4 separate regions of the Homo sapiens genome follow, and regions 1, 3 and 4 are each linked to region 2. The links come from fine-mapping of genetic effects on gene expression. A gene starts in region 2. Each other region holds a variant in brackets. All regions are shown on one strand. Distances are from middle to middle.

Region 1 (8,109 bases), 57 kb before region 2:
ACCCTTCAAAAAATTAATTAATCCAGGAGCTGGTTTTTTGAAAGGATCAACAAAATTGATAGACTGCTAGCAAGACTAATAAACAAAAAAAGAGAGAAGAATCAAATAGATGCAATAAAAAATGATAAAGGGGATATCACCACCGATCCCACAGAAATACAAACTACCATCAGAGAATACTACAAACACCTCTATGCAAATAAACTAGAAAATCTAGAAGAAATGGATAAATTCCTGGACACATACACCCTCCCAAGACTAAACCAGGAAAAGTTGAATCTCTGAATAGACCAATAACAGGATCTGAAATTGTGGCAATAATCAATAGCTTACCAACCAAAGAGTCCAGGACCAGATGGATTCACAGCCGAATTCTACCAGAGGTACAAGGAGGAACTGGTACCATTCCTTCTGAAACTATTCCAATCCATAGAAAAAGAGGGAATCCTCCCTAACTCATTTTATGAGGCCAGCATCATCCTGATACCAAAGCCGGACAGAGATACAACCAAAAAAGAGAATTTTAGACCAATATCCTTGATGAACATTGATACAAAAATCCTCAATAAAATACTGGCAAACCGAATCCAGCAGCACATCAAAAAGCTTATCCACCATGATCAAGTGGGCTTCATCCCTGGGATGCAAGGCTGGTTCAATATACGCAAATCAATAAAGGTAATCCAGCATATAAACAGAACCAAAGACAAAAAACACATGATTATCTCAATAGATGCAGAAAAGGCCTTTGACAAAATTCAACAACCTTTCATACTAAAAACTCTCAATAAATTAGGTATTGATGGGACGTATTTCAAAATAATAAGAGCTATCTATGACAAACCCACAGCCAATATCATACTGAATGGGCAAAAACTGGAAGCATTCCCTTTGAAAACTGGCACAAGACAGGGATGCCCTCTCTCACCACTCCTATTCAACACAGTGTTGGAAGTTCTGGCCAGGGCAATTGGGCAGGAGAAGGAAATAAAGGGTATTCAGTTAGGAAAAGAGGAAGTCAAACTGTCCCTGTTTGCAGATGACATGATTGTATATCTAGAAAACCCCATTGTCTCAGCCCAAAATCTCCTTAAGCTGATAAGCAACTTCAGCAAAGTCTCTGGATACAAAATCAATGTACAAAAATCACAAGCATTCTTATACACCAACAACAGACAAACAGAGAGCCAAATCATGAGTGAACTCCCATTCACAATTGCTTCAAAGAGAATAAAATACCTAGGAATCCAACTTACAAGGGATGTGAAGGACCTCTTCAAGGAGAACTACAAACCACTGCTCAAGGAAATAAAAGAGGATACAAACAAGTGGAAGAACATTCCATGCTCATGGGTAGGAAGAATCAATATTGTGAAAATGGCCATACTGCCCAAGGTAATTTACAGATTCAATGCCATCCCCATCAAGCTACCAATGACTTTCTTCACAGAACTGGAAAAAACTACTTTAAAGTTCATATGGAACCAAAAAAGAGCCTGCATCGCCAAGTCAATCCTAAGCCAAAAGAACAAAGCTGGAGGCATCACACTACCTGACTTCATACTATACTACAAGGCTACAGTAACAAAAACAGCATGGTACTGGTACCAAAACAGAGATATAGATCAATGGAACAGAACAGAGGCCTCAGAAATAACGCCGCATATCTACAACTATCTGATCTTTGACAAACCTGAGGAAAACAAGCAATGGGGAAAGGATTCCCTATTTAATAAATGGTGCTGGGAAAACTGGCTAGCCATATGTAGAAAGCTGAAACTGGATCCCTTCCTTACACCTTATACGAAAATCAGTTCAGGATGGATTAAAGACTTAAACGTTAGACCTAAAACCATAAAAACCCTAGAAGAAAACCTAGGCATTACCATTCAGGACATAGGCATGGGCAAGGACTTCATGTCTAAAACACCAAAAGCAATGGCAACAAAAGCCAAAATTGACAAATGGGATCTAATTAAACTAAAGAGCTTCTGCACAGCAAAAGAAACTACCATCAGAGTGAACAGGCAACCTAAAAAATGGGAGAAAATTTTCACAACCTACTCATCTGACAAAGGGCTAATATCCAGAATCTACAACGAACTCAAACAAATTTACAAGAAAAAAACAAACAACCCCATTAAAAAGTGGGCAAAGGACATGAACAGACACTTCTCAAAAGAAGACATTTATGCAGCCAAAAAACACATGAAAAACTGCTCACCATCACTGGCCATCAGAGATATGCAAATCAAAACCACAATGAGATACCATCTCACACCAGTTAGAATGGCGATCATTAAAAAGTCAGGAAACAACAGGTGCTGGAGAGGATGTGGAGAAATAGGAACACTTTTACACTGTTGGTGGGACTGTAAACTAGTTCAACCATTGTGAAAGTCAGTGTGGCGATTCCTCAGGGATCTAGAACTAGAAATACCATTTGACCCAGCCATCCCATTACTGGGTATATACCCAAAGGACTATAAATCATGCTGCTATAAAGACACATGCACACGTATGTTTATTGCGGCATTATTCACAATAGCAAAGACTTGGAACCAACCCAAATGTCCATCAATGATAGACTGGATTAAGAAAATGTGGCACATACACACCATGCAATACTATGCAGCCATAAAAAAGGATGAGTTTATGTCCTTTGTGGGAACATGGATGAAGCTGGAAACCATCATTCTGAGCAAACTATCTCAAGGACAGAAAACCAAACACCACATGTTCTCACTCATAGGTGGGAATTGAACAATGAGAACACATGGACACAGGAAAGGGAACATCACACTCTGGGAACTGTTGTGGGGTCGTGGGGTCGGGGGAGGGATGGCATTGGGAGATATACCTAATGCTAGATGACCAGTTAGTGGGTGCAGCGCACCAGCATGGCACATGTATACATATGTAACTAACCTGCACATTGTGCACATGTACCCTAAAACTTAAAGTATAATAATAATAAATAAATAAATAAATACAAGAAATAAGCAGGACATATTACAACCGATACCACAGAAACAAAAAAGATGATTCAAGGCTACTATGAACAGCTTTACATGCATAAACTAGAAAACCTAGAGGAGATGGATACATTCCTGGAAATATACAACCCTCCTAGATTAAACAGGAAGAAACAGAAAACTCTAAACAGACCAATAACGAGCAGTGAGATTGAAATGGTAATTTAAAAATTACCAACAAAAATAGGCTGGGCACAGTGGCTCACGCCTGTAATCCCAACACTTTGGGAGGCCAAGGCGGGTGGACCACGAGGTCAGGAGTTCAAGACCAGTCTGGCCAACATGGTGAAACCATGTCTCTACTAAAAATACAAAAATTAGCTGGGCGCAGTGGCAGGCACCTGTAATTCCAGCTACTTGGGAGGCTGAGGCAGGAGAGTTGCTTGAAACCAAGAGGCAGAGGTTGCAGCAGTGAGCTGAGATCGCACCACTGCACTCCAGCCTAGGTGACAGAGCGAGACTCTATCTCAAAAAAAAAAAAAAAAAA[AT/T]TACTAACAAAAAACCAAAAATTCCAGGACCAGATGAATTCACAGCTGAATTCTATCAGACATTCAAAGAAGAATTGGTACCAATCCTATGGACACTATTCCAAAAGATAAAGAGGGAATCCTCCCTAAATCATTCTATGAAGCCATGATCACCCTAATACCAAAACCAGGAAAGGACATATCAAAAAAACAAAACTATGGACCAACATCCCTGATGAACACAGATGCAAAAATCCTCAACGAAATCCTAGCTAACCGAATCCAACAGCATATCAAAAAGATAATCCATCACGATCAAGTGGGTTTCATACCAGGGCTGCAGGGATGGTTTAACATCTGAAAATCAATAAATGTGATATACCACATAAACAGAATTAAAAACAAAAATCACATGATCATCTGAATAGACCAGATAAAGCATTTGACAAAATCCAGCATCCCTTTATGATTAAAACCCTCAGCAAAATCAGCATAGAAGGAACATACCTTCTATGCTGGAGTTTGAGACAGCCTGGCCAACATGGCCCACATGGTGAAACCCCGTCTCTACTAAAATTACAAACTACAAACTAAAACTACAAAAATTAGCTGGGCATGGTGGCAGGTGCCTGTAATCTCAGCTACTTGGGAGGCTGAGGTCGGAGAATCGCTTGAACCCAGGAGGCAGAAGTTGCAGTGAGCCCAGATCACACCACTGCACTCCAGCCTGGGTGACAGAGTGAGACTCTGCCTCAAAAACAAACAAACAAACAAACAAACAAACAAACAGGCATATAGACCAAAGGAATGGAATAAACAACCCAGAAATGTAGCCACATATTTGCAGTCAGCTGACTGTCAACAAAGCTATTCAACAAATGGTGCTGGGACAATTGGTAAGCCACGTGTAGAAGAATGAAACTCGATCCTCATCTCTCACCTTATGGAAAAATCAACTCAAGATGGATCAAAGACTTAAATCTAAGACCTGAAACTATAAAAATTCTAGAATATAACATCAGAAAAGCCTTTCTAGACACTGGCTTAGGCAAAGTGTTCATGACCAAGAACCCAAACGCAAATGCATCAAAAACAGAGATAAACAGATGATACTTAGGTAAACTAAAATGATTCTGCATAGCAAAAGAAATAATCAGTAAACAGACAACCCACAGAGTGAAGAAAATCTTTGCAATCTATACATCTGACAAAGGACTAATATCCAGAATCTACAAGTAACTCAAACAAATCAGCAAGAAACAAAAACAATCCCATCAACAATGGGCTAAGGACATGAATAGACAATTCTCAAAAGAAGATATACAAATAGCCAATAAACATATGAAAAAATGTTCAACATCACTAATTATCAAGGAACTGCAAATCAAAACCACAACGCGATACCACCTTACTGTTCCAAGAATGGCCATAATCAAAAAATAAAAAAATAGTAGATATTGGTGTGGATGTGGTGAACAGGGAACACTTTTACACTGTTAGTGGGAATGTATACTAGTGCAACCACTATGGAAAACAGTGTGGAGATTCCTTAAAGAACTAAAGGTAGATCTACCATTTGATCCAGCAATCCCACTCCTGGGTATCTACCCAGAGGAAAAGAAGTCATTATACAAAAAAGATAACTTGCACACGCATGTTTATAGGAGTACAATTCACAATTGCAAAAATATGGAACCAGCCCATATGCCCATCGATCAACAAGTGGATAATGAAAATGTGATGTGTGTATATATATACACACACACACACACAATTGAATACTACTCAGCCATAAAAAGGAATGAAATAATGGCATTTGCAGCAACCTAGATGGAATTGGAGACCATTATTCTAAGTGAAGTAACTCAGGAATGGAAAACCAAACATTGTATGTTCTCACTCATAAGTGGGAGCTAAGCTATGAGGATGCAAAGGCATAAGAATAATACAATGGACTTTGGGGGCTGAGGGGAAAGGGTAGGCGGGGAGTGAGGGATAAAAGACTACACATTGGGTACAATGTACACTGCTTAGGTGCTGGGTGCACCAAAATCTCAGAAGTCACCAATGAAGAACTTATTCATGTAACCAAACATCACCTGTTCCCAAAATCCTACTGAAATAAAAAATAAATAGCAAAAAAAAAAGTAGCAGCAGCCTGTATTTATCATGCAAGCTCATTTAATTCTTGTATTCTATGATAAAGGCTCTATAATTACCCCTCTCCAAGATATGAGAAAACACACACAGGCTCAGTAACCCAGCTCAAAGTCACAGCTCAAAAGGAATCAAATCCAGGCAACCTGGCTCAGAAGACACACTCGCATTCATCATGCCTCTCAGCCTCAGTTGATGGGCTGTGTGAGAAGGAAGAGGGGAAGATATAAAGATGTTGCTTGATGCTGTAACAAGATGTCTTAGGGATAAAAAAAGATGCTGCTAGAAGAGTTTAAGTGCTGTTTCCCAAACTTACCACCCACATCCTACCTTCATACTATAATACTTTTGCCACATTCAAGAACCATTTTTAATATTTCTTTAAATCAACTCACCTTTTAAAACTTAAAGGGAAACTAAAGGATAACAACAAATTGTCCTAATAGGTATCCAAATTAGGATGGGTCATGGCCCCAGAGACAAGAAGCTGTACCCAGAGTTAGAGCATGAAGACTGAATGTCAAATAGGGCAGGTCTGGGGCTTGGACCAAAGTGTTGGAGAACAGCAGCCAGGAGATAGTTTCTGAGAATGCCTCCGGAAAGACAGATGGTAGCTCCAGCCAAGGAAGGAAAATTTGGGCCAGGCCAGTAGGTCTGGGGTAGTTACATGGGGAATGGGAAGAGGGGGTTTGTGAAAGAGTGAGGCTGGGACTGAAGAAAGGAACCCTGGGGCTGAGGAACAACAGAACCCAAGAAGCAACTAGAGGGGTAAAGATCTAACAGATGGGGAGACCCAGGCTGGGGACCAAGAATAGAGCCAAGGTTATTTCAGGAGGTTTAAGAGGACTGCAAGAGGGGATAGACGGTGTTGCTTACAGGGTTAAAGGGAAGAAGTCCAGAGGTGAGGGCTGAGGGGAAGGTGTGCCAAAAAAGGGTTGTAGCAGGGTGAGTTGGGGATTCCGACAGTGGAGGTGAAAAGTGGGTTGGGTGCTCAGTCCCACCATATTGTGCTTTGCAGGTTGTACCTGTGTCTTATCCTGAAGACAGTGGTGATGGTCAGCATCCCATGAATGAGATGGACCTGTCATCCACATACCACTAAAATCAACTCTCAGGTCTCCAGTGGTAAGTACCACCCTTTGGGAAACACTGCTATGGCCAAAGGATGATAAAAACCCGAGTTAAAGAACAGGATACTTGGAAGTCACTGTTAAGTTTTTAGAAGAATACCTGGGTTGTATTTTTTTAAATATAAAATTAAAATATAGCTTATAAAAACAAAATGGGTTATTGTTTTTATCCTCCACAGTATCTAGGCATGAAACTTTGTACATAATGGGCACACAAATATTCAATTATATTATTGTAAATAGTTAAAAAGGTATAATTAGAGATGAATCTGCTGGGCCATGTTCTAATAGTAAGGGTCTCATTCATGAGCTACAAGGGTAGGAGAGGGCTTCAGACAGGTCTGACTAAATGTTTGCACTCACAACAAGAGACAACATCTCAGCCAGCTGACAGAATTCCCTGGGTCACTGACAACTGAAAGGTCCTTGAGGCTTTAGATATTGCAGGAAAAGTGAGAAAAACAAAATTAAAGATATTGCAGACAAGGTCCAACGCTTCAAGACTCACACCAGATCATAAACCATTTCCCATAGCCTACAAAACCGCTTATGTCTGGGTAAAATATGTTCCTCTGAAAATATAGGTAAAATATGTTTTCCTCTGAAAAGTGATTTTAGAAATTGTGGCCAGCAGGTCCTCAGATGACCCCAGTGATTCCTGTGTTCTGGCATTCACACCCTTGTATATATTCCCAACCCTTAAGTGTGGGCAAGACCTGTGACTTGCTTCTACCCAAAAGAACACGGTAAAGGTGATAGAAAGTCACTCCTGTGATTATGTTACATTATATAAGACTCCATCTTGTTAGCAGAATCTCTCTGGTTTTCCTGATATCCTTAAAAAAGCAAGCAGCCACGTTATAATTTCCCTAAGGAAAGGGCCAAGTGGCAGAGAACTATAGGCAGCCTCTAGCCACTGGTCAGCAAGACAACGAAGCCCTCAAATCTATAACTGCAAGGAGGATAATTCTGCCAACAAGCCTCTTAATGAAAACATGGCCCCAGCCACTGCCTTGATTGTGGGGTAGCCTTGTGAGACCCAGGACAGAGGACCCAACTAAGCTGTGCCTACACTCCTGATCCACAAAACTGTGGGATAAATAATAAATGTGTGGCACATTAGGCCGCTAGGTTTCTGGTAACTTATTATTGCAGCACAGAAAACCAATAGAGAAATCTTATACATACATTTTAAAAAAGGAAGAAAAGTAATATTGAGTTACTGGCCATTTGAGGTATTTATTAATGAAGATTAAACATCCAAAGGGCAGTCCTCAATGCTCATTTCCATGATTTTAAGAGTTGATAACTCCATGTCAT
Region 2 (8,109 bases):
ATTTTAGGTAATATATTGCAGCAACTCTAGATACAGAATCCTCTCCTGAGCTTGTTTTCATTGTTGTTCACTTGTTTGTTTAGTGACTTGGCTAAGCAATTTATCAAAGTCTATTTCCCATGGAATGTGAAGCCTCCGATATCACTCCTCGGTGATGAAGCTTTGGGCAAGTGCACAATCACGCCTTCTCTAATGAGGTCTGAACCCCAGTCTTTGGGAGAAACTCTCTTTCAAATTGTCCTTCTTTGAGTACTTTCCCGTAATTCTAGGTACCAAATACAGTTTTCTTATCTTTTTAATTAATTCATTAATTTGTTTTATATACTAGAGACAGGGTCTTGCTATGTTACCCAGGCTGATTACAAACCACTGACCTCAAGTGATGCTCCTGCCTCAGCCTCCTAAAATGCTGAGATTACAGGCATGAGCTGACACGCCCAGCCCCTTACATCTTATAGTTACTCTTTTATGAAAGTATAACAATTCTTTAACTTTTCCTTGTATAAAAATCACTGTATGGTTTCTATCTCCTGACTGGACTGGACCCAGAATGAGCCAAAGGGGCATGGAGAAGTAGCCTCAAACCAAATGCCAAGGAAAAGAACATCATTCTCTAACTATTAGGACTAAAATCTTGTCAATGAGATTGAAGGTCTTAGTGGTGAAATTCACTGGTATATGAGAGCAGCCCATTTTCCTACACAATTTGATTAAAATAGCCAGAAGAAAGTCCAGTGAGGAAAGATGAAAGTGTTTCTTGTGGCAAGGTTTCTCTGGAAAACCAAAGGTTTGGAAATCTACCATTGATAAGTGTCTCTATGAGACCAACAGATCAAAACAATTTTTTTTTTGAGATGGAGTCTTGCTCTGTTGCCCAGGCTGGAGGGCAGTGGCATGATCTTGGCTCACTGCAACCTCCCCCTCCCAGGTTCAAGTGATTCTCCTGCCTTAGCCTCCCGAGTAGCTGGGACTACAGGCGCACGCCACCATGCCTGGCTAATTTTTGTATTTTTTGGTGGAGACAGGGTTTAATTCTGTTGCCCAGGCTGGTCTCAAACTCCTGACCTCAAGTGATCCACCTGCCTCAGCCTCCCAGAGTGCTGGGAAAAAATTTTTTTTCAAGTTACTTTCAGTAATATACTAATAGGTTGTCTCCTCTCCTTCCTAAAGGTCATTGATATTAGAGTGAATGGCAGTTTGTTATTCTCAATCTTTTCTTCACCTTCCCCCATAGGAAGCTGGAAACCATGCCTTATATATACCTAGTCCAAGCCCCCATTTTATAAATAACTGAGGCCCAGGGACGTACAGTGACATGCTGAAGATTACCTAGTTAGTTAGTAGGAAACAAAGATTACAAACAAGACTAACCGTTTTTCAGTCTGGTGCTGTACTATACCACCATTTAGAAGGCTTGCCTTACAAAAGAATGTCTAAAACGTGATTACAGTAAGAGCATGACAAAAGATAATTTTTCTTTAGATGTTTTAATATTTTATGCTCTGAAATAACTAAAAGCACCTCCTAATGAAATCTAAGAAATTTATTCTCAATTATTTTAGCTGTGTCTAAAATTATTTATGGTTTCCTATTAATTTACAGTACATGAAAGCTGACTGCCCTGGTTATTTGGTGATTACATTTATTTTAAAAATTCAAAATAACAGTATTTGACATTATCATATATTATTTCCTAAAAATGAAGCTAATTAAATTGTGCAAGTTGTAAAAATATAAACCTTTTTACATTTGGCATGAACCCAATTTTTAAAATAATTCAATAAACAAATACTGACAACTTACTAAATCTACCATACTCTAAATGTTACATTTATCCTTTCCCCCTGCCCATCCCTACCATGGGATAGTAAGTAAATGCATTGGCTTCAGATTTATATTCTTCACCTAGATTCAAATCCTGTTCTGCCGCTGTGATCTTGGCAAGTTATTTGTGATCTTTTGCTTTAGTTTCTTCACTATGAAATAAGGCTAATGCCTATCAAGGTATTTTTGTACATTAAATGAGATAATTTGGAAATAGTTCCTAGTACATAGCAAGGGTTTAATGTTAGTTTATATGCAAAATTTCTTAAGATCATAAAGCGTTTTGATTTGCTTTTTCTGAAACCTAGGTTGGTGAAGTGTCAGAATAGTTTGCTGATCAATGAATAGTTATCTCCTACATTCGGAGTAGCACTTATTTTGATCAATGACTATATAATAAAGGCAGACTCATTCAAAGAAAGACATCAAGGAATCATCTAGCAGCTTGGTTTAAAGGCAGTCTTTTAAATAGATAAAAACACTGAATTGGGAGGGGCGGGGAGTCTATAAAGATTGCCTCATTTGACTCGAGGAAAGAATGATACTGGCTCAGAAAGTGTGAAAATGCAAATTATTTGGTTTGGGCCGATTTGTAGATATTTAAGATTGTATTTCCCCACCCCCAACCCCACCACATGATGTCCACCTGACTCAAGAAATCAGTAGAGAACAGGTGTATATGGTGAGTACGGATTGCTGCTAAAACTGCAGTCCGCTGACCAGCAACACCGCATTACTTGGAATTTATTATAAATGCAAAATCTCAGCCACCCCCAAGGGACCTACTGAATCATAATCTGCATTTTAACATGACCCTGAGGGGATTCCTATTCACAGAAAGTTACAGAAACCCTGGGTTACTCAGTAGCTTTGGGGGAGGTAGTTCGTTACTGGGAGATTTCGTATTTACTGACCACTTCAAATGCGCCAGGATCTTCTCTATATTATCTGCATTTAATCCTCAAGAACTCCATGGCCTGGGTATTTGACCCTCACGTTCAAGAGATAAGAAAACTGAGGGTCGTCTCCATGGAGAGCAGAGGGGTTTGATTTGGGGCCCGGGGAGGTCTGACTCCAAAGACCAAACCTGGTTCCTCTGCCTGGGAGCTACTGAGGTTTTAAAGGCTGCACGACCCTGAGTTCAGGAGACAGGGGCCCCTGGTGTCAGGGCGACAAATTCAGGGCAAAGAAGCGGACCTGCGAGGCTGGCAAGCAGGCTCTCCCTCTTCCTTTGCGCAGGCCTGGGCAGCTCCAGGCAACACTGGCGACTCAGCCAGGGGTAGGAAGCGCCCCAAGGGGCGGCCTTGCACTCAGCTGCCCGGACCCGAGGCTGGGAGCGCCGCCTGGAGCGAGGGGCGAGGCGGCGGTAGCCCCTGACAGCTGCCCTTTACCTCTCCGGCTGCCATCCATGCTTAGTCCTCTTGCAGCCGCCGCAGGGACACGCTGTATCCCCTTCGGTCCTTCCCGCGGCCGGGCCCAGCCCCGGCAGTGGAGGACTGGAAAAGAGGAGCCGACGGGGGCTGCAGCAGCAGGGAAACCGTTGCCAGGCCGTTGCTAAGGGCTGGGTCCAGTGAGTCGCTATTGTGACGTCACGGCGCAGGGGACGTGCGTTCCGCAGCCCCGCCTGCGGGATACCCGGTACTAGGAGGACAGTTGCGGACGGAGAGACCTGGCGGGGAAGGGGCATCGAGCCCCAGTCTGTTGCTCTGGGATCCTGCCAGTCTTCCGCAGAGCGACCTCCTGTCAGGATCCGAGTCACCAGCACCTGGCAGGCTCTGTCCCTGCGGGAAGAGCAGGGAGAGGAGGTGGACTCATCTGGCATCCACGTCCCCTGGGTCCCGGAGAAAAGTGAAACACAAATGTTAGCTGAGGTCAGGGTAACATTTAACCAGTTCCAAATAATTAAATTTCAAAGCAGTCCGTGAACTTTTGGATTAGTGAAAATCCTAGGGGTGAAAAACATCTACATATTTACATCTTAATTCTTAACCTTAATAATAAGTTTGAATTTCCTTTCTGCTCGCCAAGCTTCCCCGCTCCTGTCCCTGCCTCCCTTTTATCGTAAGTTTCAATCCATTTTTATTTATAATGGAAGAGAGCTGCAACATGAATAAGGGGTTGATTTATTGATGGCTTTCTATAATTTGTTTAATTTTGAAGCAGTTACCTTTGAATCCTTGGAAATAACGTCAGATCAGGGTAGGAAGCATTCTGTCATGTAAGACTTCTCAGCCCAAATGTCCATTGACATTTTGGGCTGGTTGTATAATTCTCTGTTGTGGGGGTGCTGTCCCTATGAACTGTTTTGTAGCATCCCTGTCCTCCGTTTACTAGAAGCAAGTAGCTTCTCAGAAGCAGACCCCACCCACTCCACCTCCAATCCTGACAGTCATAAATGTCTCCAGACATTGTGAAATATTCCCTGGGGGGCAAAATCGCAACTCTGTTGAGAACCACTGCTGTAATGAAAAGAGTCCTGGTTTTGGAACCAGATATGTAGAACTTAATTCTAAATTTTTTGCTACTTACCAGCTTGATCTTGAATTAGTTTCTAAAACTTTCTGAGCCCCAGTTTTCTCTTTTCTAATGTAGATTGTGAAAGTTGTCAGAATCAAAAATAGAGTCACATGTGTTAGAAAACCTGACAAGTGGAACTGGAGAAGGCCATGAAGGAGAGTTCTCATCCATGAATGCCTGATAATAAAACTATCACAAAATACTGCGAAAACCACAACCTTGCACAAAGACCTCCACCTTACCCAAAAAGATACTTCTATGAGGACATCTGTCCAGCAATTGTCTGTCCAACCTTGAACTGACATCACCCTTGTTATTGATGCTTGGAGCCAAGGCTAATTACCTCAAAACAATTATGTAATCCTCTCCTTTTTTTATTTTTTAAAAAAACTTTTTTTTCCTTTAATTCCTTGAATATGCAAACAGTTTGCCATGGCACGCATATTCCTATTGCAATGCCCATTCCTGGGTAAATGTCATTTTCTTCTGTAGAGTTGAGGACTAAGCTCTAATTTTTTTATCTTGCCCAAATTCCTATCTAAGGTGTCTAGGGAGTCATGCCCTAGAAACCATAAATTCTTATCAGATGGGTTTTATTTGACTCTATATACCATGACTTACTTTCCAATCTGATTCTGGCATAATATTATGAGACAAGGAAAAAAAAATCAAAATATTTAACCCCAAGATATATTTCCTTGCCATATCTTGAAATTGCCCTGCAAAATCTCTTGTGGGAAAAAACCACATTCTATAGAGAATCTCTTTTCCCCTTTGTTTTCCTTCTTTCCTTTCCAAATCCAGGAGATAACCAACTAAGAGCCAGGCACCCTTTTAGGTCCGACAAGACAAATTTTACAATCTGCTCTCTCTCTGAGGTCTGCTATACTGAGAGCTTCCTCTGCACAATAAACTTGGTCTCCACAATCTTTTATCTTAACCCCAACATTTCCTTTTTATTGATCCCAGGCCTTCAGATAAACTCAACCAATTGTCAACCAGGAAATGTTTAAATTTACATACTCATTGAGTTGTCCCACCTTTCTGAACCAAACCAATGTATTTCTTATTTGATTGATGTCTCATGCCTCCCTAAAATGTATAAAACCAAGCTGCACCTCAACCACTTTGGGCACATGTTCTCAGGACCTCCTGAGGGTCACTCATATTTGGCTCAGAATAAATCTCTAAAAATATTTTACAGAGTTTGACTCTTTTCATCAACAGTCTACCTCTCTGTTGCTTGGGATGAAAAAATGATGCTACTAATTTTATAGTTAAAAGAATTAACAGTGCCTGGCAAATAAAAGAATGTATTCAATAAATGTTAGCTTTCTCTCTTCTGAGATTCCTATCTCAGCAGAGCTGGGTATCAGGGAATTCAGGCTTGAGGGAGTAAGTCAGAAACTCTGTAACAAGGAAGGAGAAATAAATCAGAAACCCGGTTATAATAACGCTTGAACCCCTGTTTTCCTAAAACCCAGGGTAGGCAGACAATGATTCAAAATTGGAGGCATGTTGAAGTGTGTGTGATGGCTCTGTGGCCCCAACAACAAAAGTAATTTGGAAGGATACAGGGGCAGGGAGTCAGATGTTATGCAGTCTATTAGTTCATTCTCACATTACTGTAAAGAACTACCTGAGACTGGGTAATTTATGAAGAAAAGAGGTTTAATTGACTCACAGTTCCATAGGCTGTACAGAAAGCATGGCTGGGGAGGCCTCAGGAAACACTATCATGGTGGAAGGGCAAAGGGGAAGCAAGTAGCTTCTTCACATGGCAGAGTAGGAGGGAGAGAGAGCGAAGAGGAAAGTGCTACACATGTTTTAACAAACATATCTCATGAGAACTCACTATCATGAGAACGACAAGGGGAAAATCCACCCCCATGATCCAATTACCTCTCACTAGGTACCTCCCCCAACATGGGGATTACAGTTCAACATGAAATTTGGAGGGGGACACAGAGCCAAATCATATCATGCAGAGAACAAAAACTCCTTCCTAGGTACTCATTATTGCCTGAAATCCATTTCTAAGATCATGAAGGCCTTTATTTCACTACTGGCAGCTAGCAAATACTTTGCATATAATAGGCCTCCAGTAAGCATTTGTTAAATTGAATTAGAAACAAGGAACCCAAGGCAAACACCCTTGGGATAAGCAACACAGTGACTTGACTCAGGGAAGGTGATACCAGCTCCTCTTAGAAAAGTAGACTTTAGGATGACAAGTAGATTTTGTTTTCAAGTAGAACGGGGGGGTGCGTGATCTGGAGAGGGCAGCAGAATGGGAGAAACTTCTGGAGACCATATTGTCTGGTACCCAACTTTGTCTGAAGCCATCTATTTCATTATTTCCCTTTCAATATTTTGTTCCAATTATTTCAAGAATGTGTGCATAATAGGGTCTATGTCTCTCAAATTTTAGCAATGAACATGTTATCCTAAGTGCAATTTAATTTGTCCTTTGCTTTGGCTCTATGTATGTAAACAAGAGAGAAGATTCTTTCTGGTTGCTATTCCCAGGAAATAATTCATGATCATGGGTGATGGATACAGCTGGTATGAGTTTATTATAGGGTGAGCTCCCAAGAAACACCCTTCTATTGGGAAAATCATCACCAGCTGCAATGGCCTTGGAGAGTAGGCATTCTGAAGACCTTTTGTTGAATATATATGTTTACACCTGAATTTCATGTTCTGAAATTATTCCAATGCTATAATCTTGTTATTGACATTTAGAAATCTGCATATGTGTTTTTGTTTGTTTATTTATTTATTTATTTTTGTAGAGACGAAATCTCGCTCCATCGCTCAGGCGGAGTGCGGTGGTGTGATCTTGACTCACTGCAACCTCCGCCTCCCGGATTCAAGCAATCCTCCTGCCTCAGCCTGCCGAGTAATTGGGACTACAGGTGCATGCCACCACACCCAGCTAATTTCTTTTGTATTTTAGTAGAGACGGGGTTTCGCTGTGTTGCTCAGGCTGGTCTTGAACTCCTGAGCTCAGGCAATCCACCCGCCTCAGCCTCCCAAAGTGCTGGATTACAGGCGTGAGCCACCATGCCTGGCTAATTTTTGTATTTTTAGTAGAGACAGGGTTTTGCCATGTTGGCCAGGCTGGTCTGAAACTCCAGGCCTAAAGTGATCCACCTGCCATAGCCTCCTAAAGTTCTGGGATTACAGGCATGAGCCACTGTGCCTGACCCATATGTGTGTTTTAGACGGAAATACTTTGTTTCCCTTAATGAATTGGCATGAACTAATCAATTACTGGGTTTCTTTTTTTGTATTAGCTTACAGGAACCTCAAAACTAAGATTTGTGCTCAGTTGAAATAAATATTCATAGCCTTTTAAAAATTTATCTCGTTAATTCCCTTTATTAGGAATATGACTTCTTCTTTTAATGGTTTAATTAGGCCTGTCTTATTGGATGAGCTCTAAGCCCTTTGGAAATGGGCTTTTATATATTTGAAATATACAATATATTTCAATTTTATATAAGTGAAATAAACTATATATTTTAATACCATAACCTATAGTTATGCAAATAATATATAGTTTATTGTTTATTCTGTTTTATTATATATTATTATTTTAAGCATTATGTTATTATTATATATTTAATCTATGTCTTTATGGATGACCCTTAGTTTCATAATTCAGAGGATTCCTGGAATTTATATTTGTGTGTTTAGAAAATGTTCCAGTAAATACAGTGAAAACAACAAGAAGCCAAAGTTCAAAACAACATTTTTCTATTT
Region 3 (8,109 bases), 23 kb after region 2:
TCAGATACTTTTTGTTTTACAATGAAAAGAGTATAATTGGATTATTTGTAACATAAAGGAAAAGTGCTTGAGCAGATGTATATCCCATTCACTCTTAAGTGATTATTATCCATTGCTTGCCTGTATCAAAATATCTCATGCAACTCATAAATACATGTACCTATCATGTACCCACAAAAATTAAAAATTAAAAAAAAACCCAAGCAGACAAAAAAGCTCTGCTCCAAGGTAGAGCTTCTCCAATTAGATAATATATGTGTACATATACATACATATATATATGGTAAACCAAAAGAAAATTCTAAGTCCCCCCAACTGACTGAATGGATCCTCCTCTTAGCCAAGGGGACCCAAAGGAATCTGAAAAACCAGTTCAGGCCATCACAGGAAGGGGAAGGTAGGACATATTCATTATACCCGCCTCCCTTTGAAGTTCAGGCACAACTGACCAGCATTAATATGAAAACAGGAATTCTAAGACTGACAGAACAGGCTCTGTAGCAATAAGCCAGCAAGTTCCAAACAGACTCTAGTATAGCATCACGTGACAGATAGTAGGCCCTGAAGAAAGCGAAAGTATTTTACCCCAAAATATATTTATTTGATATATTTTGAGATGGTCCTGCAAAGCTGTCTCTTGTGAGGGAAATTTGCATTCTGTAGAGAATCTCCTTCCTTTACTAGGTCTTTCTGAATAGTCTGACCGACCTTTAAAGTTCCATAGGAAACATTCACATCTATTGTCTCTGAATTCTCCTACTTGGAGGCTTCATCTACATGACAAAAACCTTGGTTTCCACAACCCACCCCTCCCCAGTTACCTTCACTCAAGCTGATTTCAACTCTTCAGGCAGAGCTTACCCCTTTCAACCAATTGCCAATCAGGAAAATTTTAAATCCACCTATGACTTAGAAGCCTAACCCCCACCTTCAAGATGTCCCACCTTTCCTGGCTACACCAATATATACCTTACATGTATTGATTTATGTCTTTACCTGTAACTTCTGTCTCCCTAAAATGCATAAAATCAAGCTATAACCCAGCCACCTTGGGCACATGTCCTTAGGACCTCCTGAGGCTGTGTCATAGGTCATGACCCTTAACCTTGGCAAAATAAATCTCTAAATTGATTGAGACTTGTCTTAGATACTTTTTCCTTTCTAAAATATAAATACTGAGTTCTTTTTTGAGCATAGGCAAAAAGTACTCTATCATCTAAAAATCCTTAATGAATAAAAAATGTCATTATTACCAAACTATACCTTGCTTTTTCTTAATCCTTAATGAATGAAAAATGTCATTATTACCAATCTATACCTTGACTTTTCTTAATTTTATTGTTAAAAGCAGGAGAGAACAGAGGTGACCACAATTCTCTATAAAGCAGTATGTGCCTGATGGTATTAGACCGAAGAGAGTTGTGATAGGATATACTGACCCCAAGTGCCTATTTTGAGTTCTCTTAAATAATAGAACTCTGATATCTGAACACAAATATAATCTTGTCCACAGAAAATGATCATTCTCAGAACTATAACACCGCACAGTTTTCACTGCACTTTTTAATATGTGTAATTCCACACCTTATTTTCATTTTTCCTACAGTTAAAAAGTGCACAAAATTGTGACTCTGTAGGTAGCTTCACTGACTTCTTTGTACTAACAGAAGATTCACTCATATTGTGACAATTTGGCTAAGGCTGCTGGTCAGGTCCACTAATAATGGCCACGGTCCTCCATCTTTCCATTTCTCCCCAGCTGCGCTCTTTAAATCTTTTCGTCCAATTAACAGAACAAGTCTCTGTGAACAGAACTTAATCATTCAGTGGTTACTAGGTAACCTGTCCCCATAGCTTAAGAAGAGCATTCCATCTATTCTTCCACTGTCAATCAATCTCCACAACAGTACATTTGGGAGGATGCTCACCCTAAAGCTTTGATAATCTCCACCGAATGCATTCTCTGTTTACAAGTGGCTTCACCATGAAAAACAAAGCAAAACAAAAAGCTTAACCAATCTGTTCATCTATCCTGATAATATCTTTTCCACTTAAAAAAATAGAATCTGAAGTTTTAACAGTTAAAGAATTTTTGAAAAGCTCTTATAAGTGCATCTACTATTCACAAACTGCCACGCACAAATCAATTTTTAAAAGCCATGATTTATGTAAGCTACCAATGAAAACCATTCTTTATTGATACTTTGCCTAGTCTTTCTAAGGGATTTCAGTCTCCACTCCAGTCACACTTTAGTTCTTTGTCTTGTTAGATGTCTGCCTGCAATATACAGAAACACTCTAAATTATTAGATTGAATGACATGAAATTGCTGTTTTATAAATAAAAAATTGTCAATTAGACAATATCACTTGGTTCTACCTAGTAGTTTGAAGTATTTGAAGAACACTATTAGAAACTTAGATTTAATTTAGACTAAATTAATTATTTCTTTAGAATATTTGAGTAAGTAATCTTAGAAAATGGAGGTGGGAGGGTGGTTCTTGACATCCTTAGACATGTTCATTCTCTGACTTAATTGAATTAAATGTGAGATTTCTCTTATCCTCTTTGAAGTCTTCCATTTCCTTGTCTGCAAACAACTTCTTAGTGTTCATTATGTTTTTAAACAAAATCTAAATTATCCAACAGTGTGAAAATGTGTTATGAAAACAGCCTATCATTCTGTAACGTTAAGTATTCACTGAAGTTTATACCTATAGGCAACCTGAGATTATGATAACATTGAGGTCACAATGAACACAGGAGCTATTAATATTTCCCACAGTGAAAGCACAGTCAAGATAGAAAGTTTGGTGGTGATCTGGGTACAGAAAGACTTCCTCTGTGTTATTTATAAGATGCAGAGTGAATGTTTCTGTACAATATCTGAACAAGGTAGAAGAAGTGATGTTCCGACACTCTTTAATTCAGTTTGTACACAAGGCTGGAGGTAAGCAAATATTTTCCCTTGTTTGTCAGAAAATTTAGGGGCTAGGAGGATGCTGGTGATTGCTAAGCAAAAGTTCTAATTTTGCAGAAAAAGCTATGGAGCCCAGAAAAGATAAGTAATTAGCCCACACAATTGGTCTTTATGACTCTTGATTTCGTGCTCATTCCACTAAATCAGGAAATAGGCAGGAAGACAATTATTTCAGTGACTTGTCCTTAGGCGTGTTCACTCTCTTATGCATGTGCTACCTAAAATAATAGAAAAATGATTTTCATATGCAATTGGGGATGTATAAAATGGAAAAGATCAATGAGAATTTGCTTCAGTCTTTGGTCTTAGGCAAACCTGTACCTAAGCTGTCCTAGATAAGTAAGAATATGTATATTTTGAAGTTATACATTTTTTTTGTAAAAGAGCAACATGTATTATTCTGAACACGGTTGAGTCCAATTTTCTTCTACTCTGGAGATGATTACTTTATCGTAATCCAGGGGGACTGTCATTTGTATTGATTTAGAAACATTTTACTGGAGAATTATCCCTCAGAAAGCTTCCCTTTTTCAAGGATAGCATAAAGAATAACACTAATGATGTTTTGTAAAGTAAATACTGCCACATGTTATTTCAATAAATATTAAGGGGCACCTACTACGTGCAAGGCTACTTGGGTCACGTTTCCCCCTGGGATTCTACGGAACAACAGTACTTTCTCCAGTTCATTTACATCCCCTTCAGTGATGCTCTGGGATTTACCTGCTTTGAATAGAATCACTGGAAGCTGGGGGTCTATAGGGATATTGTAAAGTGTCAGGAAGCACAGCAGCCATTGTTAAGTGTGTGTTGGAGTCAACCTGCTTTGAATTCTAGCTGTGCTTTTCCCCAGCAGTGTGGCCTTTACTAAGGGCCTCATTTCTTTATCTGCAAAATAGCATAATAATAGTGTACAATTCATGTGATTGTTAAGAGAATGACAGGAGGTAATACATTTAAATAACTTACCACTACTTTTGGCTGTCATAGTTTGGGTTCCTCTGGAACAAGAATTCAAGTACAAGTAGTTTATTTAGGAGATGGTCCAAATAAACACTAGAAGGGGGACATGGAAGTGAGAGAGAGAAGAGAAGGAAGCCAAAAAAGGAATGCTATCAAGCAAGTTACCACTGTGGGTAACTGGAACTCAATCCCACCAGGAAGGAGCTGGGAAACAGTACAGAACTCAGCAGTTATCCTACCCCAGGGGTGGGGAAGCTAGGGCATTGATCCACCATCTAACAACTGTACTTGTCTAAGGGCTGTAAGGGCCTTAGGTGGCTAATTCCCTGGCCTTCTGACTTGCCCTATTGGCATGTAAGTAAGTTTCCATGTTCAGAGAAAGCTGTAAGCAGTAAGGTGCACACACTGGCTGTTGAAGTTGGGATTGGCATCCAATAAAGTGGTAAGGGCTGAGGAGATGTGGGCTGAGCATCAGCGGTGTCTGCTGCCCAGGCAACAGGGACCATTAAACACACATTTACTCTTTGTAATTTAAAATATCATTAAGTGACCTTTTAGGTTATTTTCATATTGGCTATGCCTGGTGCAGAGAAGGCATTTGTTGTGAACACTTGTTTTTGACTGCCTAGCACCTTTTCCCTTGTCTTCCTGTGGGAAATTCATCCTAGGTCTTGATCTTCCCTC[C/T]TTCCCAGTCCCTTCTTTTCTTCTAGCTCTCTATTATCACAGGAAATGGGAATGGGATCCAGGAGAACACTCCCAGGCAAGCTGGCTTCAGGCATTCATTCCAGGTGGGTGTGGGGCCCTGGTCAGCACACCATCCTATCGGCAACCTCCCTGGGACATAGCTGCTAGAGATTCTAGTATTGACTTTTTCTGCTGCATCTGCTAAGCTGGAAGAGAGAGACAAAGAGACTCAGAACACCTCCTGAAGAGACTATTTTATCATCCAAATACAACTCTGGTTGAAGTGAGCTCTGCCTCTGGCCCTACCAGTTATATAAGCTGTATTAGTTTGTTCTCACGCTGCTAATAAAGACATACCTGAGACTGAGCAATTTATAAAGGGAAGGGGTTTAATTGACTTACAGTTCAGCATGGCTGGGGAGGCCTCAGGAAAGTTACAATTACAGATGAAGAGGAAGCAAACACGTCCTTCTTCACATGGAGACAGGAAGGAGAAGAATTAGAGAAGTGCAGAGTGAAGGGGGGAAAGGCCTATTACAAAACCATCAGATCTCACGAGATCTCACTATCATGAGAACAGCACAAAGGAACTGCCCTGGTCAAGTCAGTCACCTCCCACGAGGTCCCTTCCCCAACACGTGGGGATTACAATTTGGGTTACAATTCAAGATGAGATTTGGGTGGGGACACAGAGCCAGACCATATCATAAGCCAACAAATTCTTTTCTGTTGCTTGCAATGAAAGAATCGTACCTGTCAGAGCATTTAATATGTACCCATAGCACTTCATGCCCTCAGATTCTAAGACTTATCTTTTAGCACATCACCTTTCAGTGTAAGTTCCCTGGTAGTTATAAAAGCTGCTTAGCAAGATGTTGGAGGCAGGTATGTACTGCTGGCATCATTATATAGCAGAACATGCTTCCTCTCAGGTGAGGTTTTTTAATTTCATACATTATTGCTCAGTCACAGCATTAAAAAACTTTGAATTACCCCATAAGAAAGTCATTCACTTTGCAATTCTTTCAACCCTAATTACATCAAGGAGAAAGTCTCTGTTTGTTACTAGTGTGTCTTTAGCACCTCTCACCCTTGCTAATCTCCCTTTCTAACAAAGATCAAAGCTTGGGCTCAGGCCACAGTATTTAGATAAGATTTGAGAGTATCATCTTTGTTGTGCTCATTTATGGCAATTTCTACAGTAGTAATTGGGCTTGGTTTTCAAGATTTCAGTTACCCATGGTCGACCATGCTTCAACAATATTAAGTGGAAAATTCTGGAAATAAACACTTTCTAAGTTATAAATTGTGTGCTATTCTGAATAGCATGATGAAACCTTGCACTGTCCTGCTTTGTCCCATGTGGGATGTGAATCCTCCCTTTGTCCAGTGTCTCCACGCTGTCTCCACTTCCCACTAATGAGTCACTTAGTAGCCCTCTCAATGATCATCTCACATCATCACAAGAAGAGTGAGTACAGTACAATGAGATGTTTACAGAGAGAGAGAGAACCTAAATTCATATAACTTTTGTTACTGTATATTGTTAGGGTTGTCCTATTTTATTGTTATTGTTGTTAATCTATTCCTGTGTCTAATGTATAAATTAAGCTTCATCGTAGGTAGTACGTATGGGAAAAGACAGTGTGTGTTTAGGGTTTCGTACTATCCATGTTTCCAGGCATCCATTGGGGATCTTGGAATGCATTTTTCATGGCTAAGAAGGGAATACTGTACTGTTCTTCCAATTATAATTGAGCCAGTTTCTTTTAAAAATATGGTTAATTTTTAAAGTGAGTAAATTCAAGGGAAAACTATAAAGTAAATAATAGTACAGGTGGTATAACAATATGGCAAAAGCCATGTAGGTGGTACTTAGAAGTCTTAGCTTTGGGAATCACTTGCTTAGTATAGTGGTATCCCTGTTTCCAGATGGAGGAAAGAGGGAGTAGACAAGGATCTGTTCAAATTGGCATAGGCTGCTTCACTGGTGTGATTTTGACTAAAGGACAAATTTGGTTCATTGAGGAAGGAGTCTCAATTCATTTGCGGGTAAAAACAAAGAACACTTATTTTTCCCAACCACTATTTTCAACGCTGCTCTAACACAGTCCCCTCCTCACTGGGTGACAGGGGCTCTTTATAACACTTCAGCCTGATTCTTTAGCTTTTTGTCATTTTCAGTAATTAAAAGTCACTTTCAGTTTTTAAGACTCAGCTCTGTTTATTTAAACTTTAATTTTTTTTCAGATCCAAAGCTCTTCTCCCCCACTCCTCCCAGCATTGGCTAGACCAGTGGGCACCAGGGCTGGCATTTGAGGGGGCATGATCTGCTTTCATATAACCCCTTCTTCCTCCCTCCATGCACCTGCTTCTCTGATGCTGAGCTGGAGAAGGAAAAGGAACAAGAAAGACCCAGCTCCTTATTTGACTTGTCTTTACGTAGCTCTCATGGGTGGTTGACACCGTTGTTGTCTGAGGGTTCAATGTAGACAAGCGATGGCTCTAGCATGCCCCTCTGATGGCAGCCTCCCCAAGCAGCTTCCCCAGATGTTGGTAATATGTTGTGAGATTTGACTCCAAATGAAGACCCTCGGTCCGCATATTCCCCCACTGCTTCAGTGTGCTTGCCTCCTTGACCCCTGCTACAGCAATCCCCAGCTAGAGACTGTAGGCCACAGACTCACAGACTTACAAGTACCTGTGGGATCCTTTTCTGTACTTCTTGGGATCTGGAACTATGGAAGGGATGCAAAGAAAGGAAGTGGCCTCTCTCTGTCTTACCACCCTCCATCATTCCTTGTCTTCTTAATTCATTCCCCTCCACCTGGATCACAGGGGCAGGTGAGCAGATCCACTGACTAATGTAGACATTAAACCAGAGAGTGGAATCACATTTCCCCTTTTTGTTGGCACCTACAAAAGAATGGTTCTCTTGGGACCTGCCTCCCTTGGTTTTCACACTGCTATAAAGAAATACCTGATACCGGGTAATTTATTTTAAAAAAGAGATTTAATTGACTCACAATTCTTCGTGGCTGGGGAGGCCTCGGGAAACTTGCAATCATGGCGGAAGGGGAAGCAGGCATGTCTCACATAGCAGCAGGCGAGAGAGGGAAGTAAGAGCAAAGGGGAAGAGCCCCTTATAAAACCATCAGATCTCATGAGAAGTAACTCACTATCATGAGAACAACATGGGGGAAATGTCACCCATAATCCAATCACCTCCCTCCCTCCATATGTGGGGATTACAGGTCCCTCCCTCAGCACATGGGGATAACAGCTCGAGATGAGATTTGGGTGGGGACACAGAACCAAACTACATCAGAATCTGAGTCCCTGATACTATGGAAGCTCATACCAACCTAGAAGGGCTACTATCTTCAGACTTTCAGAAGAGAGAACTAAATGTTCCATTACTTACAGTTATACATAATCCTAGCCAATCACAGTCAGACTTTTTGTAGTGTTCAAACTAGACT
Region 4 (8,109 bases), 800 kb before region 2:
TATTGACACCCCATCTTTGATGAATAACAGAAGGTGGGGGGGTGGGGGGTCATAGGTGGATGCTCTACAGATCCAAAGCACCCCCACAAGTGTGCCTTGGGAATGTCCCACTTAGGTTCTCCCACATGTGTGATTATTGATGGAATACTTTTCCTTTAAGGTTTTCTTTCTCTCTTTCTGTTTTCTTTCTTTCACTATGTCTTCTTTTTATTTGTGTCCCTCTACAATTTCCTTTAATGTGTTTTGGAAGAATACTGAAATATTTTCTTTAATTTTCTGGCCATATAAATAGGAAAAGACTCCAGACTTCCTCCCTGTGTTTCTTCTTGTTCTGGGCCCAGCAAACCTCCTGGCCACCGAGAAAAACTTTGGGTACGAGTCACCTGCGGAGGCAGGGACCATGTAGCCAGGCCAACCATGGTCACCTGTAGCACTTTCGTTCTCAATAATGGCAGAGACCTTTTGCTTGGCAGGAAAAAATCGTTTTTCTTGGCTACCCCCTGAGAAAGGAAAAGGCCCTTTCTAAAACGAGGGGCAAGAGGGAAAGGCCTGAGGCCTTAACAGCCCCCCTTAGGAACTGCTTGTCCCTTGTGACTTGTGAGATGCCAGCAAGAATGCTGGGGCTGTGAGTGCTGCTTGCAGGCAACAGGCCCTGTGGGGGACCAAGGGACCCGGGGCAGTGGGAGCCACAGGGGCAGTGGGAAGAACTTTTAGTTTTTTAGCTGAATGGTTTTATATATAAATATATATATTTTTCTATATCTTATATATTTATATATATTAAATATATAAAATTCAACTAATAATATATAAACTATTATATATGATAGTATACATATATTAACTATTATATAATAGTATAAACTATTAACCATTATATATAGTAGTGTATATTAACTATTATATATAATAGTATATATAAACTATATAAGATTTATATAGTTTATATTATATAGTTTATATAGCTTATATTATATAGTTTATATTACATATAACATATGTGTTATATATTGTATAATTCATATGTTATAAAGTTATATACAACTATTATAAACTAATATATAGTTTATAAAATGTTAACTATTATATGTAATAGTATATATAAACTATAGTTTATATATAATATATAATTTATGTATTATAAACTATTACAACTATTATAAACTGATATTTTGTAGTTTGTATATTAACTTATATAAAATAGTTAATATATAAACTGTATACTATTACATATAACTATATATTTTATTAATGATCATATATAATAGTATGCATAGTTTATTATATAGTATATATAAGTACTTAATATATACTGTTATATATAATGGTTAATATAATATACTTAATATATAATATTCATATACATATTTAATGTGCATTGTAGTTAATATATTAATATATAATATATATTAATATCAGTGGGAAATGGTGACTGTTTAAGGTATTTCACCCCTGGAGTTGCCAAATATATAAACTGTATATATACTATTATATATAATAGCTAATATAGTATGTATATTATTATATATAATAGTTTATATATGTTAGTTGATGATTAATGATTAATTATATTAGCTAATATATATTATATATTATAGTTATATATATGTGTATATATATATATACTAATATCAGTGGGAAATGGTGACTGTTTTAGGAATTTCACCCCTAGGGTTGCCAAATAAGTTAATTTACTTGTTTCTCATATAATGTACTTATTAAAATAAACTTTTAGTCCATTATGGAATGTAAGTAACAGGCCTCCTGCAGGCAAAATAGAAAAAAAACTCTTCAAAGTCAAGTTCTATTTTTTTTTTTTTTTGAGACCCTGTTTTCGGGAACCAGCATTATCCATATCATTAATCGCTTGTGGGCCTCTTTTTACCAATCATGTTACTCCTTTGGAATTAAACCACACATATAAAGTATGAAAAATGTACTTTTTTAAACATTAAAAAAGTAATTTTCTAGCATAATATCCAAAATAAGGTGCCATGGAGCCATTAGTAGCAAATTGAATTTTTTGGTATGTAATTTGTACAAAAACTGACAAGTGCGAGCCCCTTGTCCCCCATCATTAGTCATTGGGTTTGGCGGACACAGAGGCAGTAATCTGCAAGGGAAGGCATTTTGATGTCGACTTCAATTGCACACTTCATTTATTTGGACAGGGCACAGGCGGCAGCTTCTGTCACGCGGCATCACCGCACTATTAGTGAATTTCGCCCCAGGGCAGCTGGGACGCTGCGCTGGGGCAGATGTTCTTTTCAGCCTATTCAGTGACCATTCTTGGGGGTTGTTTACTGTTGCCATGGTGACCTTCATTTCCATAGCAGCAGAGCTGCTGTTTCTCAGAGGAAAATGAATTTAGTTATAAAAGGATAATATTTTTCTCTGTCTCTATATAACCTGCCATCTGTCAACTGGTGGATCAGTAAGGATTCAGAAACCTATTAAGAATTATAGCAATGGAGTGATGAGTATTTTTTTTTTACCCATATTAAAAGCAATAATAGAAGTGGAAGCAAACATTGTGCCCTCAACATGACAACTTTACTTTTTTCTTTATATTTTAAGTGCTTTTTTTTAATGCCTTCACCACATCCACACCACTGTTACAAACACATAACCTCGTGAAACACAATTTACATTCTGCTGACAAATGGAAATGACCACATGTCTTGTTTGTATCTCACTAGATGCAGGTGTATTTAATGCTTTCTTGATGCTGTGAGCTTTCCCCAGTTCATTAAAGATTCATATGGCTGAACTTCCTATTGTCACTGACTCTCCTGCTCCTCACCCCACGGTAAAAGCTGTGGGGGTGCATAGATCAGCAATTTATCAGGAACATACAGTGCAAATTATAAAATTAACAAAATGAGAAGAAACCATGCTTGTGTGATGAAAAATTTACTAACATGATCCTTAAATCTCATTCTAGAATACCTTTTCTTCTTCTCAAATCCCACTGGGAAGAAAGTCGCCTTTGGGATAGCTCATCCAGTTGCTGGATATTTTTTTTTTCTCTGTTGCATTCATAAACTGTAACTTGCAGGGGGAAAAACACACACACACACCGGCCCCGTTGTAAATAATGTTATTTATTGGTTGATTTTTCCAGATCCTGACATTGATGCTGCCAGTGCCATGATGCTTTTGAATACTCCCCCTGAGATACAAGCAGGTTGTGAGTAGATATTTCTATAGCCTACAGCACCATAGTTTGTGAACTTAACCTTCTCATTTATACACCAGGTCATAGGAAGAACTAATGCTAAAGTAGAACTTCCCTTATAGAATCACTTTAAAAGCTACATAAGTGCATGATTACATGCATATGCATATAAACATGCAGCCATGCATATGTATGAATGAATGCATAGGTGTGTTTCCAAGATGAGAAAGTTCTTATATAATTTCAGGACTTAAGACTTGGGGAAAGGGAAACAGATCCTTTAATGAGTCCCAGTGAAGAGGCCTTCCTTGCTCCTGCAGGTATTGTTCCTGTGAGTTTGTAGTTTCTCCTAGAAGAGGCTACATGGGGTCAACTTAACCCTAATGGACCTGAGCAGTACCCATTTTTAGAAATTTCTTTCTCTTCTGGGACCTCATCGCCAGGCTGCCATTTTGGAGAAGAGTCTAGTGAAATAGGCCTGTTGGAGCCTGGAATATCTTTGAAATGAAACCACGCTACCAGCTTGGACCATTTCTATCCAGCCTCCCAGGCTGCCCCAGATAGCAGGGTAGGGCTGTTTAGCTAAGCAGGACTCCCATCCTCACCTTCTTTTTGTTGGCCTTCAACAATGTCAAGTTTGAGACAACATTTCCTTACTGAGACTTCTCTTCTCACCACCTGAGGTTTTTACCATCTCTGGAGATAGTCTACCATGGTTTTAGAAAGATCTCTTCCCAAGGGATGAAGAGTGACTTCAAACAAAGATATCTGTCCCTTCCTTCTCCCCACTCGAGGTCAGTACCAGTGCCCACATCCCATACCCAGCTAGAACCCTGTTGAACACACAGACAGCTGGTTTACCAAGGTCTGCTCAGCTTGTTGTTAGGACATTGCTGTGTTACAGCCTCTTACTGATGAAACAC[G/A]GTAGTGAGGAAATAGTGACATGAAGCAGCAGACGCCACTACAACACCACCGCTTAGGGGCTGGCACTCACCTATCTCCTTCTTATGGCTAGGCCTTCAGCTCATTTTGGGTTCTGGCTCTCTGAGGGCCACATGGCTTGCTGAGCAGTGGGAAGTCCCTGCCTTTGGAGTGGATGCTACTTCACACAGGAAAACATCCATCCTCAGACCCAAAACAGGTGCCTTTTGTTAGTATTGGACTACGTGGAGTTCCAGGCCATCCGTCATAGCCCCTCTGCTTGTCCCAGCCTTCCTGACAACTTTAGGATATTTGACTCCAACCTTTCTTATTTGTTCCTATTTTAAAAGACCCAAGAAATTCAGCTGAGCATTCTCAGGGAGACTTGTTCCTCTGCCTGGAGCTGCCATTACCTGTTCCGAACAGTCTAGAGTTCTGATTCTCTCTTTCCAAACTCAGACCTCCAGCCATTGCAATGTTGGGCTGCCTACACCTCTGACATGCAAACACCACTGCTAAGCAGATGTGTCACTGGCCTAGCTCTATAACTAGCAGTTAACCTGGAGTGTGGTTTTTAAATGATGTTTCATATTTCAGAGAAATGTATATGTTTTTAAATTTTTTTTTTTAAATAAACTTCCATTCTTAGATGGCATTGCAGGAAAAGTACAGACCAGATTGTAATCAAGTTCCAGGCTGAAAAGATTTCTAAAATTAAGTTGCATAACTCAACCCAGTGGAAACATACTGATTTCATCAGAGCCATGTAAGATTCGAGCACCTTCCTTTGCACCCAGCCACTACACAGTGATCATTAGTTTCACAAAAATACTTCCAGCTGGTTGCTGAAGTTCAGAGGGAAAATGGGACCATGACCTTCTGCTAGAAGAGGCTATATGGGGCCAGCTTAAACGTAATGGACCGGAGCAGTACCCATTTTTAGAAATTTCTGTCTCTTCTGGGACCTCATCACCAAGCTGCCATTTTGGAGAAGAGTCTGGTGAAGCAGGCCTGCTGGAGCCTGGAATATCTTTGAAATGAAACCAAGCCAGGCAAGGGGACTGATTGATCCTTCACAGATCCTCAGCAGCTTCCATAAACGTCCATGATTACTGGATTCTTGAGCATAGGTAGGAAAGGAAAAAGGCTTCTCCTGATGAGTTGACAAGTGAGTTGTTTTCAGTGTTCGCCTCCCCTCTCCAACTCTGTAATACTCAGACTGTAAATACTTCTTTTTCCAGGGTAGCCACGGTCCTATTTACATTGAAATGCTGAATTTGAGTTTTACAAGCTCAGTGTTCATGTTTTGAAGCTGTAGGCTCATTTTTAGAAGGCTTTTTTTTAGAAGGCTATTACCGCTGTGTGAGAAATCCAGCCACAGCCTTCATGAAAGCCCCAGGCCAAGAACGGGGCTCCAAGACAGTGGAAGGAAAGAACCCGGGGTGCCTACAAAGGTCACAGAAGGAGACGCTCATGGACAGGAATAACAGAGAAGTAAATGTGAAGACTGGGCAGAAAGTAGGGAGTCTACCTTTGCATTCACCGTCCCATCTGACCGCCAGCCCTGGTTCAATGCCCTGGAGGTCAAGGGCAAGTACAGTCAAGGAGCAGGTTGTAAGGACCCCAAGGATTGGAGCAGTTCCTTAGCAAGGGAGTGAAGATGCATGGAGCGTCTTCTCTGTGCACTTGGGAAGCCAGCTGGCCCATCCTCCCCATAAACCCAACCAGAGGAATGTATCTGCAGCTTGTGGTTAGCTCTTTCTGGCTTCACTCTTTCTCCGTGCCCCCTACCCCCGCCACCTTTCTTTTCATTTTATATTGCATAACGTTATTTGCCTTGGGATTTGAGGCAGTCCTTTGCCTTCTTAAGGGAGAAGCATTACAGGCAGAATGATTAGGCAGTCATCCCCTGCCCTGCCGGCATCGCCCAAGGCCTGGAAAAAGTGAGAGGCTATTCCTGTGCAAAAATGGTTAAAGGCAACAGCCAGCCAGCCACAGTGATGGTGTGTGGGCAGCCTATGTAGGGGTGTTTGTGTGCCTGTGTCCCAGTGTGGATATATCCCAGGTCTTCTCTAGGTTGAGGGGTCCTGCCACTGCCCATGAGTGGAGAGTGTGGCTTCGGAGAGCAACACATTTCCTGTCTGCGCAGAGCCTGCCTGTATTCCCCCGTGGGCTGGTGCTATGGCTGGGCTCTGTTGATAGAGCTTCCTCGTGCGGTGCTATTTATAGCCCCTTGTTTTCACCTCTTGGGCTGCTAGATGCCCCTGCTTGCATGGGGGCCACCAACCTAGTCTCTGCTGCTGTTCTGCTCCCAGCAGATAGAGGCTGGCCTGGATAGCTGGAAGGCTTTTCCTTTGTCCTCACCCTTCATAGCCACTCCAGGTCACCAGATGGCAGCCACTTAGATCTTTTCTCTTCCTCCTACCCTTGCTCAGCATCTGTAAAGGTAGCTCAAGGCCGGCAGACTGGCCACAGTCCAGGGTCTGAAGCTGACTAGGTTGCACAAAGGAAATGGCTCAGACTCTGGTGAGAGCCCCAGGCAGAGCAAGCCTCTTTATCATTGGAGGGTCCGTGTTGCCCCAAGGGAGCCCAGCACACCATGTCTTGCTTGGGCTGGAGTCCCTAGGGGTCCCTCCACCTCTCATTTCAGTCTAATGCTTCACTTGCAGTGCAGCGGCAGTGTGCACCTAATAAAAACCTCAGGCTACAACATTTTGTCCTCCTGGCAGCATCCGCTGTGCATGTGACATTAGCCCTTTTAGACTTTGCCCGTTTGCAGCATAGGAAACATTCTGCAAGGAGAGCCACCATGTCTCACGCGCTCTATAGGATGCTGCCTTCAGAACAGTCAGCATGGGACATGGCTGGCTCATTACCCCCTGGACTTTGGATTATGCTCCAGTCAAATCCATCTGCCTACCCCACCCTCTCCACCCTCAAAATGGCTATGTAGATTCATTCCAGCTTCTAGTATCTCCTTCAGTACCTGCTTTGCAGTTCCCGTTTGACAAGCCCCGTGAGTCAGCTTTAACCCCAATGGAGGACTTGTTAGTCAGGAGAAGCCAGATCTCCATTACTCATCTTCAAAGGCTTATATAATCCCTGGTTGGAAGGTTCCCAGAGACAAACTAGATAATAAACAAAACAACAAAATGGAACGAGGGAAGGGGAGGGATTGGGGGAAGGCGTTCCTCCCCCTGCCTGGAACTGGGATGTATGTCAGACACACCAGGCACAGCAGAGGGAAGACAACTAGGAAATAGGCTGTGTCTCCCCGTGCCAGCCCCCTCCCCAGTGTGCTTCCAAGTAAGCAGGTGGAAAGGCTGACTTTAGGAAAGGGAAGGATTAGCGGAATCACCTGCTGCTCAGCTTATGGCCTCTGAGAGAGTTAGCCAGGGCTGCCCTCCAAAGGCAGCGGCAAGAGCTCAGAGGTTAATTTTAGAAGTTGTGAAAAACCAAGGAAGCTAAGCCTCAGGAGGGGAGCTGGGGAAGTGCTGAGGGACAATGTAGCGTGGAGGAGTTTGTCTTGGACCTTAGACTTTTTTCTTTTTAAGATTCTCAGGATTGCGTTATCCCATTTAGAACATAGCATCTACAATGAGCAGTGCTGCTCTGTTTGGCTCTCTTCTTATGTGTGAAGGTTGCCCTCTTGCTAGTTAAAACCAGAAAGCTTAAGAGTCCCTCTCTAACTGCAGAGAACGTGGCTGATGGCAAGTGTGGGGAAGTGTGGCGCCAATGTCCCTCATCCTGAGAGCCTCAGGGGTGGGTATTCTCTCATCTAAAAGATAAATACGTAACTGGCCTAACCTGCAAGGATGATGCTAGAGGCCTGGGCCTTGTCTGGAGAGAGCCACAAATCCGAGGAAGAAGTTGACTTTCAACGTCCAGCCCTTTTGATGTCTTACATAGCTGGAGGCCAGTGCACTTCAGTACATCAGGTGCGTCAGATTGGCTGTAAAGGTTTTGGTCTTTCGGTGTCTTAATATGCTCTGAGGGAAACAGAGTAAAAG

Direction of the effects. Alleles are on the strand shown, and positions count from the first base shown. SD is a standard deviation of normalised expression in the study named. Not every link is listed here.
With allele AT in place of T in region 1, the expression in monocytes of the gene that starts at base 3,396 in region 2 is lower (moderate effect, 0.58 SD a copy in Quach 2016).
As copies of T replace C in region 3, the expression in esophagus muscle of the gene that starts at base 3,396 in region 2 goes up (moderate effect, 0.42 SD a copy in GTEx).

What was found. PIP is the estimated chance that this variant, and not a neighbour inherited with it, causes the effect.
Region 1: its variant is fine-mapped to the expression of SPATA7 in monocytes (Quach 2016, PIP 0.95).
Region 3: its variant is fine-mapped to the expression of SPATA7 in esophagus muscle (GTEx, PIP above 0.99). The same link has a PIP of 0.9 or more in aorta, cerebral cortex, fibroblasts, monocytes, prefrontal cortex and sigmoid colon.
Region 4: its variant is fine-mapped to the expression of SPATA7 in pancreas (GTEx, PIP 0.96).

The regions. Positions count from the first base shown.
Region 1 is chr14:88,438,355-88,446,463 of GRCh38, reverse strand. SPATA7 (spermatogenesis associated 7) reads right to left here. Exons shown (of 12, transcript NM_018418.5): 12 at 8,004-8,109. The coding sequence ends at 8,042. Among named protein-coding and RNA genes, the nearest start is that of SPATA7, 57 kb to the right of the region's middle. The variant AT/T (reference allele first, on the strand shown) is at 3,523.
Region 2 is chr14:88,380,944-88,389,052 of GRCh38, reverse strand. SPATA7 (spermatogenesis associated 7) reads right to left here and starts at 3,396. Exons shown (of 12, transcript NM_018418.5): 1 at 3,216-3,396. The coding sequence starts at 3,234. RefSeq lists enhancers at 3,204-3,523, 3,534-3,603, 3,634-3,713.
Region 3 is chr14:88,357,608-88,365,716 of GRCh38, reverse strand. No RefSeq gene overlaps it. Among named protein-coding and RNA genes, the nearest start is that of SPATA7, 24 kb to the left of the region's middle. RefSeq lists a silencer at 658-952 and an enhancer at 289-1,096. The variant C/T (reference allele first, on the strand shown) is at 4,628.
Region 4 is chr14:89,185,465-89,193,573 of GRCh38, reverse strand. The region is part of intron 4 of FOXN3 (forkhead box N3); the gene reads left to right. Among named protein-coding and RNA genes, the nearest start is that of FOXN3-AS3, 160 kb to the left of the region's middle. RefSeq lists a silencer at 5,036-5,220. The variant G/A (reference allele first, on the strand shown) is at 4,102.